Linked DNA regions of Homo sapiens. The protein of the gene in region 3 interacts with the protein of the main gene of each other region in a pairwise test. Each region holds a gene or a part of one and is shown on either strand. Other genes may lie near its edges.

Region 1 (7,036 bases), on a different chromosome or scaffold from region 3:
TTATATTCAGCCATAGAGTACCGAGAGCAGTGTGCATCAGCTAAGAAATCTCAAGTCTACCACATGGATAGGATTTCGGTTACAATTACAATGTCAATTTCTGAAGGATCGATTAGCTGAATGGATTTGAGGACTATGGAAAATCTTACAGTCATGACACCCATTACTTATTGAGGTAAATAGAAACTTCATTTTGTTCAAATAAAGTTATATTTAGGTCCAAAGGTCCTAAATGTAATATTCCATAAATGAACCCCGTGAAGAACAAAGCACCAAATATAACATTGTTTGTGAATCACAGAAAATATACTGTCCCACACTGAGAATAAGGGAGTGGGAGGACAGCAATTAATGGGCATTGTTGTCAGTCAGATTCTAGAAATTTTTAACAGTGCATCCCTGGAATAATCCATGACCTCAGTTACATAAATGTTTTGTTTGAAAATATTTTATCTAGGAGAAATTATTTCTATCTCAATGTTAATCTCAGGATAATTCCTTTTTTGCTTTTTCTAACCATAAAAGGATTTAATCACCTCCTAAAAGCCACTTAGAAAATAACTAAACCAGCTACCTGTATGGCAGTATCCTCATTTATCCAGCTTTTATCAAATGTACCATATAAAAACATCAATCAAAGGAAACAGTGGCTGACATTCAGTGACTCGGTTTTTGGAGCTGCTCCTGCTCCTCTGAACTGGGTCTATTCTTGGGTCAGTACTAAGCTACCTTACAGTAAAGCCTTTGAGTTTTAAGCATTTTCAGCAAAATCATTTCCGTTTTTACAGCAACATAGATGGTAGGAAGACACAAACCTTGGAACAAAATACAAATTTTGTATTCACCAGTCAAGGGCTCTTGGATAAAACACAATCCCAGCGCCTCCATTTTCTCATTCATAAAGATGAGAACTTTTATCATAGTGAGGGATTTGCCTAAGCTAAGCTGCAAACTACATAGCCTCCTCGCTTTTCCAGTCAATTTCAGGCATTCTTTCCATTGTTTTCTTTCCTCCTCTTCCTCCTATGTGACAATGCCTAACACACACACACACACACGTGCACACACACACACACGAACACACACACACGCACACACCAGCAGACGTTCTTCTTCCCTTTCCCTCACCTTGACCTGCAGATGCTCCCTCATCCTCTCCCTCCTGAGCAGCTGCAGGATCCTGACGTTGAGTTGCTGGTTCCCCTTCTTCAGGTGTTGCTGGTTCCACTTCATCACTGAACTGCTCGGGCTGGGGAATACGTGTGGGTGTGCAAATAAAAAATAAGTTTCGTTATTGATACAAAATTTTACATATATACACAGAATACATAGCTATTTCTGGTCCTAACTAAGCCTAAAGACATTTCTCCAACTCTATGCTCTATGCCCAATAAGGTTACTCGACCCACAGGAAGGTTACTATGAGAAAAGTGACGCACGAGGACTTTGGAGGCTATTATACTCAGTGTTGGAATACATGTGTACAATCTGTCATTAACAAACAAAGCCTGAGAAAGAAGTCATGGGCAAAAGCTGAAGAACACTAGAGGAAAAAAAATTCTCCAGAATCAATGTTTCCTTCATGAGACGCCATCATCATTTTTTATGAGCAGGAAAGACCTTTATCAGCATTTCCATACTAATGCAACAATACTGTCACAAAAATTAATTTCTGCTAATAGAAAACAACGAATTAACGTTTAAGCACTCACCAGCATAGGCCCAATCATTTCAGGGGGCTCTACGTAGCGTCTTGGTCTAGGCCGATAGGTCGATCTTCCTCGCCAACTCATATTTCACACTGAAAACAGACAACCGTGATTGGGAACGTGCGCTCCACAGGGCTGCTATATTCGATCACCTCCATGGATAAATGTTAACTTGTCGTTTTAATTTTGAAAATACTTTCAAAATAAGTCCCAGAGTTAAGCATATGTGTGTACCTTTTCTGAGTGCCTACAAAGCCACTTATGCTGGCCAAGCTGGCAGAGCAATCATCTTAAGGCGTGTGACAAAACGCAGAGGACATTTTTTTTCTAAATTTCTTTTGGTCCCGCAGTCTCCCTGTGTTGCTCTGGCAGAGTGCAGCGGCGTGATCACAGCTCACTGCAGCATCGACCTCCTGCTCAAGGGATCCTCCCACCTCAGCGTCCCGAGTAACTGGGACTACAGGCGCAGGCCATGGCGCCCCACTGGCAGAGGTCATTTCTGATGAGGTTTAGTTTCACAAGTGGACTCCACATGAAAACATTAGTGAATCATAATTCTCGTGATTGCTACTTTGGGCACACTCCCACTTACTAGAGCCATTCACTTCTCTCAAATCAAGTTTGATTGGACCGCACAGCCTCTCCCAGTCCTTCCCACTGTTGCCAGACCTTCCATGGCGGAGGTGAGATCTTGCGATGCTTCTCACTCGGGGCTCCCCACTCCACAAAGCTCAGGGGCACTCACCAGCCCGCAGTCTTCCCAGGTGCCAGGTCCCTTCTTTATCGCCCTCCTCGCACCTGTCCGGGACCTCATTCAGGGATCTCCCCTGTATCGGGTATTCCTGGCACCTCCGGACTTCCATCCCTCTGACAGCACACCCAGCAATCGCCCCTTCTTCACCTGAGCCCCTGACCGCCTCCCCTCCATGGCCCACCTTCCTCCTTGTCCTGGCCCCTTCACGACCACAAAGCAGATGGTGGCCTCACAGCCTTTGAGAGAAGGAGGACGACCTCAAGGCCCTTCTCTTTCAGAGGCCAGGAGCCCCTTCCCTTTCAGAAGCCTCGAGGCCCTTCTCCCTCAGAGGCCACAGACCACGAAGCAGGACCCAACGGACTCACCCGAAGCACACTGCCTGCTCTTCACCCTCACTCACACTTCAGACCCCGGGAGGACTGGCCTGCAGACCTACCAGATGAATCTCAGTAGAGGAAAAATATTCCAGACGACAGGAACGAGACCACACACCCTCACAGCTCCCTGGCGTTCTCCACGTGGGTAAAGCGGCTGAGCAGAAGACGCCCAGTGGACATGCGCACTGAGGCGGGAGCCAAGGAGCATGTACAGCTGCGGGTTGGGGAAGGCTGCCGTTCCCAGCCCCACGCCCCCAACCCTCGATTCCCATCCCCACTGAGGATAATGGAATCTGACCTCCCTCTGCTGTTTCCTATGCCTCTGGGACTCAAGTAGTGCTCCCCTCAAAACTCACTCCATCTTCAACTAAACCCCCCTCCCCTCCAGGGCCCTCTCTTGCCCCGGCCCCACCATGGGGACAAGGACCACGGTGACTGCCTGAGAAGACAGGTAAACCACCTGCGAAAACAGAAATAGCAACCTACCCCAAAAAGAAATTGTTAAATGTGAACAAGTCAGAGAAAGAGACTGAAAGAAAAATGAATACAATCTCTAGGACCCATAAGAAAATACTAAAACGATATCTATCATTTGTAGCATCAGAATCACAGAAAGAGAAGTGCCAGTATTAGAGAAACAGGAGAGCCAGAGTGACACCATGTGAAAATCAACTCCATCTTGAAACTCGCAAGACACATTCCTTACCAGTCACAACCCATGGTCCTAAGATGTTTGGAGTTGAGAAAACAGACGAAAGGTACCTCCAAGGACATGCTCCCACAGCAGCAGAAAGTGCAGGGTTCTCAACACCCATAACAATATATGCTTTCAACATAATTATGCTTTCATGGACTTACACACTGGAAAGTCAAGGATAGTTTTCTTTAAATCAATAGAATGATAAATTTCATCATGCCCTTAGCACACCCTCACAAAGATACAGATAAGTTTAGTCTTTACATAGAGAAGACCCTTGTATAAGAAAAACTGGCCAGGCCAAGACTCATGCCTGTAGTACTAGTATTTTTGGAGGCTGAGCTGGGCAGATTGCCTGAGCTCAGGTGTTCGAGACCAGCCTAAGCAACATGAGAAAATCTCATCACTACAAAAAAAAAAAAAAAGAAGAAGAAAAATTAGCTGGGAATGGTTACATGTACCTATAGTCACAGCTACTTAGAAGCCTGAGGTGGGAGGATCACTTGAGCCAAGAAGGTCAAGGATGCAGTGAGCTCTGATAACACCACTGCACTCCAGCCTGGGTGATAGAATGAGACCCTGTCTCGATTTTTAAAAATAGAAGATAAAAATGTACAAAGTTATCAATCTAATTCACTACATTAACAGATGAATGGGAAAAAAATGCTGTTATAAACAAAATAGATGCACTGATGAAACTCAACATATATTCAAATGAATACTCTCAGCAAATTTGGAACAGAATGGAATGACTTACTCTGATAAAGTCCATCTACAAAAAAAGGACAGTAAATAGGATGGTGAAATGTTGAAATTTTTCGGTTTCTCATCAGGGATAAGACAAGGATATTGACTGTCACCATTTTAACAGGTGGGTCTGCACAATGCCATAAAATCAGAAAAGGAAATAAAACTCTTTACAATGGCAACAACAGGCCCGGCACGGTGGCCCACGTCAGTAATCTCAGCACTGTGGGAGGTGAGGCGGGTGCATCACTTGCACTCAAAAGTTCAAGAACAGCCCGGGAAACATGGCAAAACCCCGTCTCTACAAAAAATACAAAAGGAAAAAGAAAAAAAAAATGGCAGAAACAAAATTGTTCTTATTCAAGGATGGTATGATTCTGTATGTTGAAGACTGAAAACCATCTAGAAGTAAACTTTTAGAATTCATAAGCATATTTCACAAGGCTGCTGGATAGAAAATCAATATATAAGAATTATGTCTCGCCCGGGCGCGGTGGCTCACGCCTGTAATCCCAACACTTTGGGAGGCCGAGGTGGGTGGATCACGAGGTCAGGAGTTCAAGAGCACCCCGGCCAAGATGGCGAAACCCCGTCTCTACTAAAAATACAAAATCTGGCTGGGTAGGTGGTGGGCTCCTGTAATCCCAGCTACTCGGGAGGCTGAGGCAGAAATTGCTTGCATCCAGGAGGCGGGGGTTGCAGTGAGCAGAGATCACACCACTGCACTCTAGCCTAAGCAACAGAGTGAGACTCTGTCTGGAAAGAGAAAAAAAGAAAAAAAAAAAAGGAATGATGTCTCTGCATACCAGCTGAAACAGTTAGAATATAAAATTTCAAAGAATGATACATATTTCACAGCATCAGAAAGCTAGAAATAAAATTCACAAAAGATGCGCAAGACTACTTTGCAGAAGGCTGTAAAGCTTTATTGGGAGAATTTTAATGAACAAATTTCCAACATAGGAGCAGCCTGCATCATTTCAGCTTGTCTTCTTTTAACTCCGTGATTGCTTTTCACCTGTAACAGAAACATAACAACTGGGAACATTACTTAACAGCAGTTTATTTATATGATTCTAAAGGCATGTAAAGCATACTACAGTTTGGGTTTTATTAAATAGACAAAAAAACAGAACCCTAAAGGTGATCCTGTGTCTTACATCCAATTAAACCTCTGTATACACTTTGAGGGTAGACCTCCAGAATTTAAAGGTAATTTCTTACCTATACATCAAGTACCTCCTTTAAATTCAGAAGCACTTATAATGAATGGTCAGCAATTTGGAAAACACATATGTAAAACATATTTCAGTTGATTACTCAGGAAGTACTAAAGTCATGGTCTTTGAACTTCAAATCTTATCAACTCATGTCTCAAAATCTGAAACTTACGTGTAACATTTGATATGGTTAGAGGTGATTATATCACTCTATCCACAGTCTTATTAGAAACAGTGGCTCATGCAGACTGACTGTGGGGCAGGGAGCATGCTTAGCACAAGCATCTTACTCACACCCATCCTGAGCATCACTGACCTTCATGCCACAGAAAATAGAAACTAAACAATCTATCACCTTTTGATTATTCACTCACTCAAGGTTTCCTTTGTGAAAGATTTAAAAAGCAATTATTTATTAAGAGCCAGAGAATCCCATCCTGGGCAACATAGTGAGACCTCATCTCTACAAAACTTATATCAAAAAAACAAAATTAATCGGGCCACGGTGGCTTGTGCCTATAGTTCCAGCTACTCAAGAGGCTGAGATGGGATGATCGCTTGAGCCTGGGAGTCAGAGGGTGCAGTGAGCTGAAGTTGTACCACTGCACTCCCGCCTGGGTGACAGAGTGAGACTCTGTCTTAAAAAAAAAAAAAAAAAAAAAAAAAAAAAACAGCAGCAATAGCAAGATGGCCAAATAGTAATACCTCTGGTCTGCAGCTCCCAGTGAGATCAAGGCAGAAGGTGGGTGATTTCTGCATTTCCAGCTGAGGTACCCGGCTCATCTCACTGGGACTCATTAGACAGTGGGTGCAGCCCATGGAAGGCAAGCCGAAGTAGAGTGGGGCACTGCCTTACCGGGGAAGCAGTAGGGGTCGGGGAACTCCTTCCCCTAGCCAAGGGAAGTTATGAGGAACTGTGCTGTGATGAACGGTGCATCCAGGCCCAGATACTATGCTTTTCCCATGGTCTTCTCAACCCACAGACCAGGAGATTCCCTCCTGTGCCTATGCCACCAGGGCCCTAGGTTTCAAACACAAAACTGGGCAACCGTTTGGGCAGATATGGAGCTTGCTGCAGGAGTTGTTTTTCATACCCCAGTGGTGCCTGGAATGCCAGCAAGACAGAACCGTTCACTCCACTGGAAAGGGGGCTAAAGCCAGGGAGCCATGTGGTCTAGCTGAGCAGGTCCCACCACCACGGAGCCCAGCAAACTAAGATCCACTGACTTGAAATTCTCACTGCCAGCACAGCAGTCTGAAGTTGACCTGGGATGCTCAAGCTTGGTGGGGGGAGGGGCGTTTGTCATTACTGAGGCTTGAGTAGGCAGTTTTCCCCTCACATTATGAACAAAGCCTCCGGGAAGTTCAAACTGGGCAGAGCCCACGGCCGCTTGGCAAACCCGCTGTAGCCAGACTGCCTCTCTAGATTCCACCTCTCTGGGAAGGGCATCTCTGAAAGAAAGGCAGCAGCCCCAGGCAGGGGCTTATAGATAAAACTCCCATCTTTCTGGGACAGAGCACCTGGGGGAAGG
Region 2 (3,356 bases), on a different chromosome or scaffold from region 3:
TTTATGTATATATTTTGGGGAGAGGGATGGATAGGAGATGTAAAGAATTTAGTGAAAAAAATATTTACTACATTTATAACACAAACACTAAGCTTAAAACTGAGGTATTAATTTTTTCATGCATTTCTAAATTTACTTTGGAAAGGAAAACATAAAAGTTATCCCAATGCTATGAATTCCAGATAGAACTATATGACTATAATTTATTCATAAAATAATTTATAACCTTCCAAAACATTCTGAACTATATGCTTTGTTTGTCAAATAAGTTTCCTTGAATTTTTAGATAATTAAGCACTTCTGCTAAAGCCATTATATTATTTTCACTCCATCATAGAAGATACCCAGAAGAGTAGTAAAGATAAAATAAATATTTCAATTGCCAGGAAAAAGCTGGGTGTAGTGGGCATGCCAGTAGTCTAGCTGGGGAGGCTGAGGCAGCAGGATCACTTGCGTCTAGGAGTACAAAGACAGTTTGGGTAACATAGCAATACCCACCTCTCTTTAAAAAAAATAATAATAAGCTGGGGAGAAAAAATGTGTTCTGCTGGATTTTCTTAGAGTATATATATATATTTGTGATAGTTGAAAGTGAGAATAATGTAGCTTAAAAAATTTATAAAAATGAATTTTAAAAGTTAAACTAGCAAATAAAATTCATTTTATCTAATGAATTTGGGCCTTTTTAACCATGTGTCCCTCTTTTCTTCAACTTTTCTTTAACTTACAGGAATTTAATTTTGTTAAAAGAAAATAATTATCCTTGATTATAATTTGAACATTGGAGATACTAAAAAATATATATATATATATTCCACCTTGGCACTAACTTTTCTTTGTTCAGATATGGTAGAGATGGATGATTTAGAATAAATGAGACAAGTGGCCAGTCTCTATGTGTGGCTTCTGAAGGAAAAATTTGTAGAATATATTATTTAAAAACTAATAGTTCAAATGTAGGCAAAGATAGCCTTTATTTTATGTTATGTATTAAAAGTGTATATTATAAAGTGTGGGGATGCCCATACCTGGGGACTAAAATTATAAAGACTGATTGAGGACATACTTGAAATACAAAATTATTTATTTAATGTTGACTCCTAAGTAGTTTAAACATTTAATTGTCAAATTTTAAAGCTGCAAAGAATCTTGTTATCTAGTTCAATGCTTTTATTTTATAGATAAGAAACCTGAGAAACAGGAAAATCTAGCTCAAATGAAGAAGCTAGTTGGGAGAAAGTATTTTAACAGGGAGCTAGTGAATATTTTGTAGGCAAATCACAGGTCAGGAGAGTGGCAAATGTGACAGCTAAGCCTTAGTGCAGGATACCTAGAGTAGGACAGGAATATTTTTGAGCCAGGTATAGAAGTGTATCTTCTTTATTGAGGCAGATCAAAAGCCAGGAGAACTGAAGAGTGAAAATGAAGATTCCTGGCCCAGACAGCTAATTTGTAGAAGTATTGAAATCTGGAGGTCATATCAAGCAAGACACAGTTTCTGAAAAAGAATGATGAGTTCACTAGACTTAGAAACTTTTAAAATCAAATAATTTTTAAATCACCATCTATTTAATACAAATTTGGAGCAAAAGAAAGAGTTGACTGTAATTTAAGAAAATTCAAATTTGGAAAAATTAGCTCTGGTCACTTTGTGTAATTCTGTGTTACCATATTTTGTTTTTGTTGGTTTTCCTTTAGTTTCCTATTAAAAGGCCTTTTGGAACAAATTTTAGCCTTTAATTTTGCTAACCTAAGAAGAAATGGACTTTTTAAAAAATTAAGAGATAAAGGACCTTTTATCTAAAGATTACATATTCTGGTAGAGTAAAATGAGAGCAACTCTAGAACTTAGAGAAGACTCATGTAGTTGGGTTGATTAAAAAGGAGAAAGTCTAAAGAAAAATGTTGGGTGAGCTGCAGTCACGTAGGGTGGTATAAAGGGCAAGGCTTTGGAGTTAAGACAGTCTTTTATTCAAACAGTGACTCCACATTCAATTGTGATACAACTTCTCTGGATCATCAGTTTCCTCATCTGTGAAATAAGGATTATAATACTTGCCTCATAGAAAAGTTGTTGGGTTTAAAGAGACCCAATGTAGTATGGAACACCTGGTATACAGTTAGTTCTAAGTAAATACTAGCCTCTTTTCTCATGAGTGCAGGGGAGCGTGCATGTATGCATGTTTGCTCCTCCAGTGTATCAGGGGCACTATCTATATCACCCTTCTCAGACTTTGGTGATTTTACTTGCTTATTTGTCTTCCTTTTCATAGAGCCAAGGTATTTCGTGTATTTGGTAAAGGTCCAGAAATAAAAAGAAAAATTCTCAGTGATGGAACTCTGCATTATCAGATAAAGATCTGTTTTAGTAATGCAAAGTTGCGTTTTAAAATGTGAATGGATTTTCAAAAAAATTGTGAAAGCATATAATTGAAGTTTTAAGAAAAAATTTTGTTTAAATCTTTTAAAACCTTTTTCTTCTCCTTTTACAGGTCATCCTCATAGAATTTTTACCAAAGACACCGATTTTTCGACCAGATTAGCATTTACTTTATTTATAGAGACTTTCCAAGTATGTTGTCTTTCCAATGGTGCCTTGCTTGGTGCTCTCCTGGTGGTGACATAACATTGGTTCTACAGAATCGTGTGGTGTTTTTTTTGTTTTTGTTTTTGTTTTTTTTTTAAATAACCGCATGTTCTAAGTGTGCATTTTTGTCAATCTTTGCAACAGTTATTTCATACAGATGTTTAATACTTAAGTTATTGTGCTCTTTTCTGTTATGTATTCTGATTTTCAAGGATTACTTTTTTGTATTATCAAAAAAATACATTTGAACTTAGCATAAAAAGTGGCCAGCCTTTTTTATTTTGTCACCAAGGTACACACAGTCCTTTATTTATAAATTCCTTAACAGAGAAAAACACCTTTGTAAGGCTCAACTTACCTATTCCAGCAAGCACACTTTTTCTGTCATTTTTTCTTTCTTTTCAAATTTGATATTGTCATTATTTTAAAATAGTAAGTTTTCTTTAATAGTCTTTTGGGACCTAACATACCCTTTCTCATACAATTCCTAATGCTCTGTTTATGGCAGATAATCTGTAATGTTATGAAGACCTATCAAAAAGTTTTAAAAGTATTTCTGTCTTCAAAGGTAGTAAGACAGGATTAAATTTTTATTAGAATAGACAAATCAGTGAATGGTATGCATGTATCTAGTGGTTACTAGAACTCAGGATCACACAATATAGTAGCATCACGATCTGTGTATATTTTTGATCAAGATGATAATAATGGCCTTACTTGGGTTTTTATCGTTTATCAAATCTTACATACAAAAGAGTGGAAGTATTCC
Region 3 (7,039 bases):
GTTTTGTTTTGCTTTTCCTTTGTTCTTTCTTTCCTTTGAGCCATAAAAAGCCAAGAGAGCACGTGGGTTTTTAAGAGGATCCTGCTCCTTTTTCAAAAAGTTCAGTGAGAAATTAGAGTCATCCCCCTGTATCTGTGGGGGATTGGTTTCAGAACCTCCTACAAATACCAAAATCCTCTATGCTCAAGTCCCTTATATAAAATGGCATAGTATTTGCATGTAACCTATGCACATCCTCTCATATACTTTAAATCATCTCTAGGTGTTCTTACAGTACCTAATACAATGTAAATGTTATGCAATAGTTGTCATACTACATTGGGTTTTTTTGTTATTATTTTTTATAGTTTTTCCCCCAAATCTTTTCAATCGGCAGTTGGTAGAATCCACAAATGGAGAACCCATGGATAAGCAGGGTTGACTGTATTAAAGTGTTTCTAACGATTTTCAAATCAAACATTCTACGGTGATTTATTTATGCCTTGACATCACCAGGTGATGAAAGTCTCTCACACTTCTCTACCAAATTATCTCGTAAAGGCAAAAGAAAGGAAAAAAACCCCATAATCTAGGAGGTGGTCTAACCATAAAAAGTAACATTTCTATAAATTGTATCTTGAGAGTTCAAGGAAATTTGAATTCCCTCTATTCCATAATGTATTTAAACATAAAAATATTTACCTCTTCCCCACCTCCTCCCCACCAAAAAAAAAAAAAAAATCAGTAAAATTCACATTCTGGGAAGCTATGTAATGTTTGACTTTGGTTTTGTACATTTCCATCAGAATGTCACATACTCTCGGACACATTTGTATCCTTGTCTCAGAAGCACTGCTGTCAGGGAAATGCAAGCCAGAAAATGACTGTAATGCCAACCAGCCTTCAAAAGTTAACTGCTAGCCAGATTTTCTCAGACCCATCACAAATATCTTAGTCCCATTACTACAAATAAGCTCTTTGACAGCAAGAGACCATGACAAAATCATCTCTGCATTCTTCACAGCCCCTAATAGAGTATCTTTACATATAAAGGACAGTCAGGAAGTACTTGCTGCAGGAATAAATGGATAATATGCGTACTTAATCCAAAAAGCCAAACTAAGCTGGGTGCAGTGGTATGTGCCTATAATCCCTGCTACTTGGAGGCTGAGGCAGGAGGACTGCTTGAGCTCAGGAGTTTGAGTCTAGCCTGGGCAACATACCAAGGCCCCCATCTCTTTAAAAAAGAAAGGCTGCTCTGCAGCTTGGGTGGTGGGCAGGGTGGGCAGTCCTCATTGTCACCGCCATATTTCTTGTAGGTTTTTAGAACCCTGGAATCCATTTCTCACGGGTGACTGCGGTCCTATTATTCCAGCTTGGACTACATAGTCCACAGGTGATGGAGAAATCTTGGACCTCTGGCTCCATCTCCAGGACCTCTGGCTCTGCGCTGTGCTGCGTCTGACCAGGTCCCGCTTGAGGACGAAGGCGGCGCAGTTGACTGCAGGAGCCTCTGCAGCCCCAGCCTGAAGCCTGCATGGGACCCTGTGTGGCGCTAACAGGTTTTTTTTAAAGGAAGATTGATATTTTCTCAAAGAGAGGGGATGTCACTATGTTGCCCAGGATGATCTCGAACTCCTAGATTCAAGCAATCCTCCCACCTTGGCCTCCCAAAGTGCTGGGATTATAGGTCTAGGTTTTCCCAAATCGCTTTTCTGGTAGAGAAACCCTGAGGACTGATTGGCTTTTGCTTGTCTAAAACCATGGCCTGTGAATTTGTAACATTCAGGGACATGGCCACAGACTTCTCTCATCAGGAGTGGGAATACCTTGACCTGGTTCAGAAGACCTTGTACCAGGAGGTGACGGTGAAGAACCATGGTAACTTGTCTCACTCTCACTGAGGCTGGAGAGCAGTGTCGCAATCACAGCTCACTGCAACCTTGACCTCTATGGCTTAAGCAATCCTCCTGCCTCAGCCTCCAGAGTAGCTGGGACTACAGATTTGGATTCAAGGTGTGAAATAATCAGAGATGGAAAAATATACATTTATAGGAGACACACATTTGTTACTCCACATCAGAGAATTCATCCTAGTGAGAAAACGGATCAACATGAAAAGTTTTTGAAGGTAAAAAAAAAAAAAAAAAAAGGCCAAAACAGTTTCTTCAAACTTATTTCTCAATAAAAAAGATGATTTTTAAAATATAACTTTTAAATTCTCTAACAGCCTGGCAAAACCTGAAACTTTTCTATAGTCTTATAACAGTAATGCATTTTTCGGTTAAAACAGTAGACATAATATCCATTATATTATTCACAACAAAGAAATAAGTTTGCACAGCATTTCTTCAGTTTATGGATGTAGTCAAGCCCTTTCATTAAATTGTTTGCTTTTTCATAATATATTTTTGTGTTCTACAAAAATGTTATGTACTTTAACAAATGATAAACAATATTTTAGGATGACTAATTATGAAGTTACTTGAAATTCAAATACCTGAGTTCTTTAAAAAGTTCAACATTCTGGTGAGTCATCAAATTGTTTAGAAGCCATTCAAGGCACCTGAAATTAAAATATATAATTATTACATTATATGCCATGTATTTACAATTTATTAAGTAGGACTTATAGTTAAAATAAAATCAGATTAATCTTGCCAGAACATGCTCAAAACTTTTAGCTTAACAATAGGAAATTTAGTATTATTTTTGTCAGTGGATATTATTAAGAGAATATTTCCTTTATATTAACGAGAGCATTTCCAGTTTTAAAACTTCATTTTGAGTTTGTGTTAAATAGTTTATTAAGGGGTCTGCATACTAGTATAACCTTCTTTAAAATCTCAAAACAGGTACTGCAACTCTCAAGAGTTAGAAGGACTGTCAGTCTATCAGGCCTACTTCTTAAACAATTTTAATAGAAAATATACTATAAAGTGCAGTGGCATGATCACGGCTCATTGCAGTCTTGAACCTCCTGGGCTCAAAGAATCCTCTGACCTCAGCCTCCAGAATAGTGGGGACCACAGGTGCATGCCACCATGCCTGGCTAATTTTTAAAATTTTTTGTAGAGATGGGGTCTCCCTACATTGCTCAGGCTGGTCTTAATCTCCTGGGCCCAAGTGATCTTTCTGCCTTGGCCTCCCAAACCACTGGGATTACAGGTGTTAGCCACCACACCCGACCAAGGTGACCATGGTTTTTATAAGCATGTATATAACCCACCTATGGTCACTTACAAAGACGACACTTTTGAGGAATTTACTAATTAGTCCAAAAGTTAAAAGGGGCTTTTTATTTAATAAAATTCCATCCCCCTATCCTATTTTTCCTTAATTCTTTCTTTCTTATAGCTATACATTCTCTTAAGAAACTAAAGCAACCAAATTCCTAAAAGTGGGATAGGAAGAAAAACAAGAAAGGCAACTCACTTTTTCTTTACAGAATCTAATCCATAGGTCCCTGCTGATGTGTAATAGCCACATACAGTTTTCACATTAACTGTTTCCTTCATTGTCTCACCACACTGCTGTATTAAACCGTCCTGTAAATATAAATAAGCACTGGAAAGGCCCATTTCACGTGGGAAAAATTAGCTCTGACAGCTTTTACATATTAAAAAGTAAAAGAAAAAAAAAAAGAAGAAAGAAAAGAAAGAAAACTCATTAAGTGCAGCAAACCTAAGTTTTTTTTTTTTTTTTTAACAAGTCCAATAAAAATACTGAAAAAAGTTCAGCAAGTATTCAACTAAATACTTGGAATTTGAAAATGGAAGGTGGGGGGGAGTAGTAAGGTAGAGAATGAATACTGCTATTCTTTTTCTTTTCTATTCTTCCCCTGTCTGAGACCTTTGCAAATTTCTTTAGCAGCATTTTGTCTGTTTTGCCATTTCTTTTTAAATTAAGAAGTCTACATAGTCAGTTAACCATGTGATGGGACTAAACTAACAGTATGCATTAGCAGAAAGTGATCAAGTTTAAAATAACTACAATATCTAAGAGATAGACTTAAAACAAGTATATTATTATTTCAAATGATTAACATTAAAGTTTTAACCTAAAATGTTTATATAGGTTTTAAGTGAACTAACTTTAATATATGGGAAGAATACTACTTTTCATTCAAATTTCTGAAATACATTCATCATGCAGGTATATTAAGTTAAAGAGTTAGTAAATCATAAAAGTAAGCAGAAGGTGAATTTAGAACAAAACCAAAAGGACCAGAGTTAGATAATAAAGTATACTTATTGGAAGTAAGTATTGAAAGGATCAAAACATTTTGAAAATCAAATGATCTCAACCAAGGATATTTAGCAAGCTATTAATACTTCAAATAAATCAGTACAAAAATACCACATAAAAGTAAACAATTTTTTAAGATTAAAATAAAACATTGACTCCATTAGGATTTTAAACTTACCTGGAAATCATTCTAGACTCCTCCCCTTTCCTCTTAACATTTAGTCTATCACCAAGTCCAGTGGATTATCCCTGAATCTCTCTGGTATCCACTTTTTCCCCTCCAAGCTTATTGCTACTACCCTACTTTCCTCCCTTGGACGAATGCAACAAGTTTTTGTCTCTAATGCTGTACTCATCTTTCCTTCAATTCATCTGTCACATTGTTACTGAAGTATTCTTTCTAAAACATAACTTCGTCTTTCCCCTGATTAAAATATTCCAAAGGTACTGTGTATGCTAAACTTCTTAGCAATGTATAGATGTATTTTCATGATCTGGCTTCTGCCCCCCTCTTCTGCAATCCTTCTTATGTTTATGTGGGAGCCATGTTTCTGTTAGAGTCTTGAATCCTCCATTATTTCACATCACTAGATCTTAGTTTACTCTGTTCTCTCTGTCTGAAATGCTCTTCCTTCCCCTCTTCTTACTTTGCAATACAAACACACTTTCAAGACTCTGTGTGAAAATGTAACTTTCGTATGTGACACCACCAGGATGAACTGACCACTCCCTTCTTTATCCATTCACTAAATGCTACAGGATGTTTATTATCATACCTATAATATTGAACAGCTCTTACTTTACCTTTGGGTTTGTATATCAACCCTCCCTCCCCTCTCCACACATACATACTATGTTGTGAACTTTTTGAAAGTAAGGATTACGTCTTAAGTTACCTTTGGCTTTCTGTGTCTAGTTTGACACAGTGCTCAACACACTTCTCTTCAATGAACAAATCTGTCATTCTGCCAGTAGATTAAAATACATATATGTGATTTATACACAATTCTTTCAAAATTAAGAGAAATTTAAATAGTAGGCATGCATGTTTATTTGAACCCATGAATGAAATTAATTGGTAATCATAAGCCATCTGCTTAATAGTCAAGTCATTAATGAAATCTGTAAATGACCTTAGACAAGTACGTTTTTTCCACATTATAGTCATACTAAGATATCTACACAGAAATGGCCTGCATTCATTTTATGCAGACATCATGACTCCCTCGGTTGTAATAAATTGCTTTTGGTTAGGCATTTTAAATGATTTATAATAAATGTCATATTTATACATTTCATTTTTATTTAAAAACTCCAAAAAAGCTAAGCTTTATTTTTGTTTTTGGAGTACACACTTTGAGACAAAGATTATTATTCTGAACCTTTCTTCGAATAACGTGCATACTTACCAACTGCAGCAAACAAGCTGCTGCCAAAATGGCAACAACTCGACTGGGCTTTATCAAGACATCATCTCGATACAGTGAACCAAATGCAACCTGCAGTGCTGAAAGCAAGGTACACATGTAGGATGAAATAATATTTATATCTATTACAAGTGTTATACAAATAACAACAACGACTGTCTTCACACACAAAGACATCCGTCTAAATGTGGCATGCACATAAAAGGATAACAGAAGTATCTCTAATTAAAACGCTAGTAATGGTTACTGGTTGACACTGTTAATTTAATAACAAGGTTATAAATTTCTGTTTATTCTACCAAATCTAGCTGCATTCTTCTAACATGTAATCTTGACATCAGTGGTCACAACCAAGATGCCTTGCAAGAAGTTGTATAAGATACTCCTCAGTAGACCAATCGTTAAGTACAAATACGCAGACTCAAAGATAATCTTAACCCGGCTGCTTTCAGCACTCCACCACTGAGAAATGTGGTACAGCTCCTGAGTCCTGTCCATGCCACACTCATTCCCAGCCCCCACAGTGATCTATGCCTGTTCATCCTTCCTCCACTGCCACTGTTATGAATGTCCCACATGGTTTGCTTTGTAAATATTCTTTTTTTTTTTTTTGAGATGGAGTCTCGCTCTGTCGCCCAGGCTGGAGTGCAGTGGCGCGATCTCGGCTCACTGCAAGCTCTGCCTCCCGGGTTCACGCCATTCTCCTGCCTCAGCCTCCCAAATAGCTGGGACTACAGGTGCCTGCCACCACGCTTGGCTAATTTTTTGTATTTTTTTAAGTAGAGATGGGGTTCACCATGTTAGCCAGGATGGTCTCGATCTCCTGACCTTGTGATCCACCCACCTTGGCCTCCCAACGTGCTGGGATTACAGGCTGTAAATATTCTTAACTAAAGTATTTCTTTGCCTTTGTATCGCACCAGGTACTTCCATGTGGACCACCAATGAGGGGAGCAGCAAGAGCACTGGAATGGGAATGAGGAGAGCTGTAGTCTGACACAGGCTCACTAAACTGCTCTGAGATCCAAAATAAGTCCCTTAACTCCTCTGAGCCTCAGCTTCCTCAACTAAGGATTCTTTTAGCTCTAAAACAATATTTTTATTTATTGTTCCCAGAAAACATCTTCATACATAGGGAATAATCAGTATTATTTATCAGATTTTCTATGTAATTAAAAAAAAAAATGGTCATACTTTTCCTTCCTCCATCCTACATCTTCCATATCCCAGGTGGGCATATTTACAAAGATAAGTAAACAAACTGATAAGGCCCAAATGACAAAACAGATTAGTGATAAGATGGACAGAACTGATAAACTATGGTGTAAATCAACATCAAATTATCACCTTGAGGTGATAAAAGGAGTTTTCTAGACTACAAGGCT

What was found. Proteins that work in one complex are often made in the same cells at the same time.
Region 1: the proteins of GMCL1 (region 3) and GAGE10 interact in binary tests that used the Homo sapiens proteins (3 or more experiments, as listed by UniProt).
Region 2: the proteins of GMCL1 (region 3) and CHIC2 interact in binary tests that used the Homo sapiens proteins (3 or more experiments, as listed by UniProt).

Annotation. Positions count from the first base shown.
Region 1 is NC_000023.11:49,299,617-49,306,652, reverse strand, and holds the start of GAGE10 (G antigen 10), read right to left. Parts: upstream 3,008-7,036; 5' UTR 2,900-3,007; intron 1,802-2,899; 5' UTR 1,794-1,801; coding exon 1,713-1,793; intron 1,289-1,712; coding exon of another isoform or gene 1,250-1,288; coding exon 1,129-1,249; intron 1-1,128.
Region 2 is NC_000004.12:54,009,282-54,012,637, reverse strand, and holds the end of CHIC2 (cysteine-rich hydrophobic domain-containing protein 2), read left to right. Parts: intron 1-2,492; coding exon 2,493-2,543; 3' UTR 2,544-2,849; downstream 2,850-3,356.
Region 3 is NC_000002.12:69,839,637-69,846,675, reverse strand, and holds part of GMCL1 (germ cell-less protein-like 1), read right to left. Parts: intron 5,735-7,039; coding exon 5,637-5,734; intron 5,194-5,636; exon of another isoform or gene 5,124-5,193; intron 3,589-5,123; exon of another isoform or gene 3,561-3,588; coding exon of another isoform or gene 3,528-3,560; coding exon 3,415-3,527; intron 2,546-3,414; coding exon 2,480-2,545; intron 2,092-2,479; exon of another isoform or gene 1,809-2,091; intron 1-1,808. UniProt on the Homo sapiens protein: Possible function in spermatogenesis. Enhances the degradation of MDM2 and increases the amount of p53 probably by modulating the nucleocytoplasmic transport.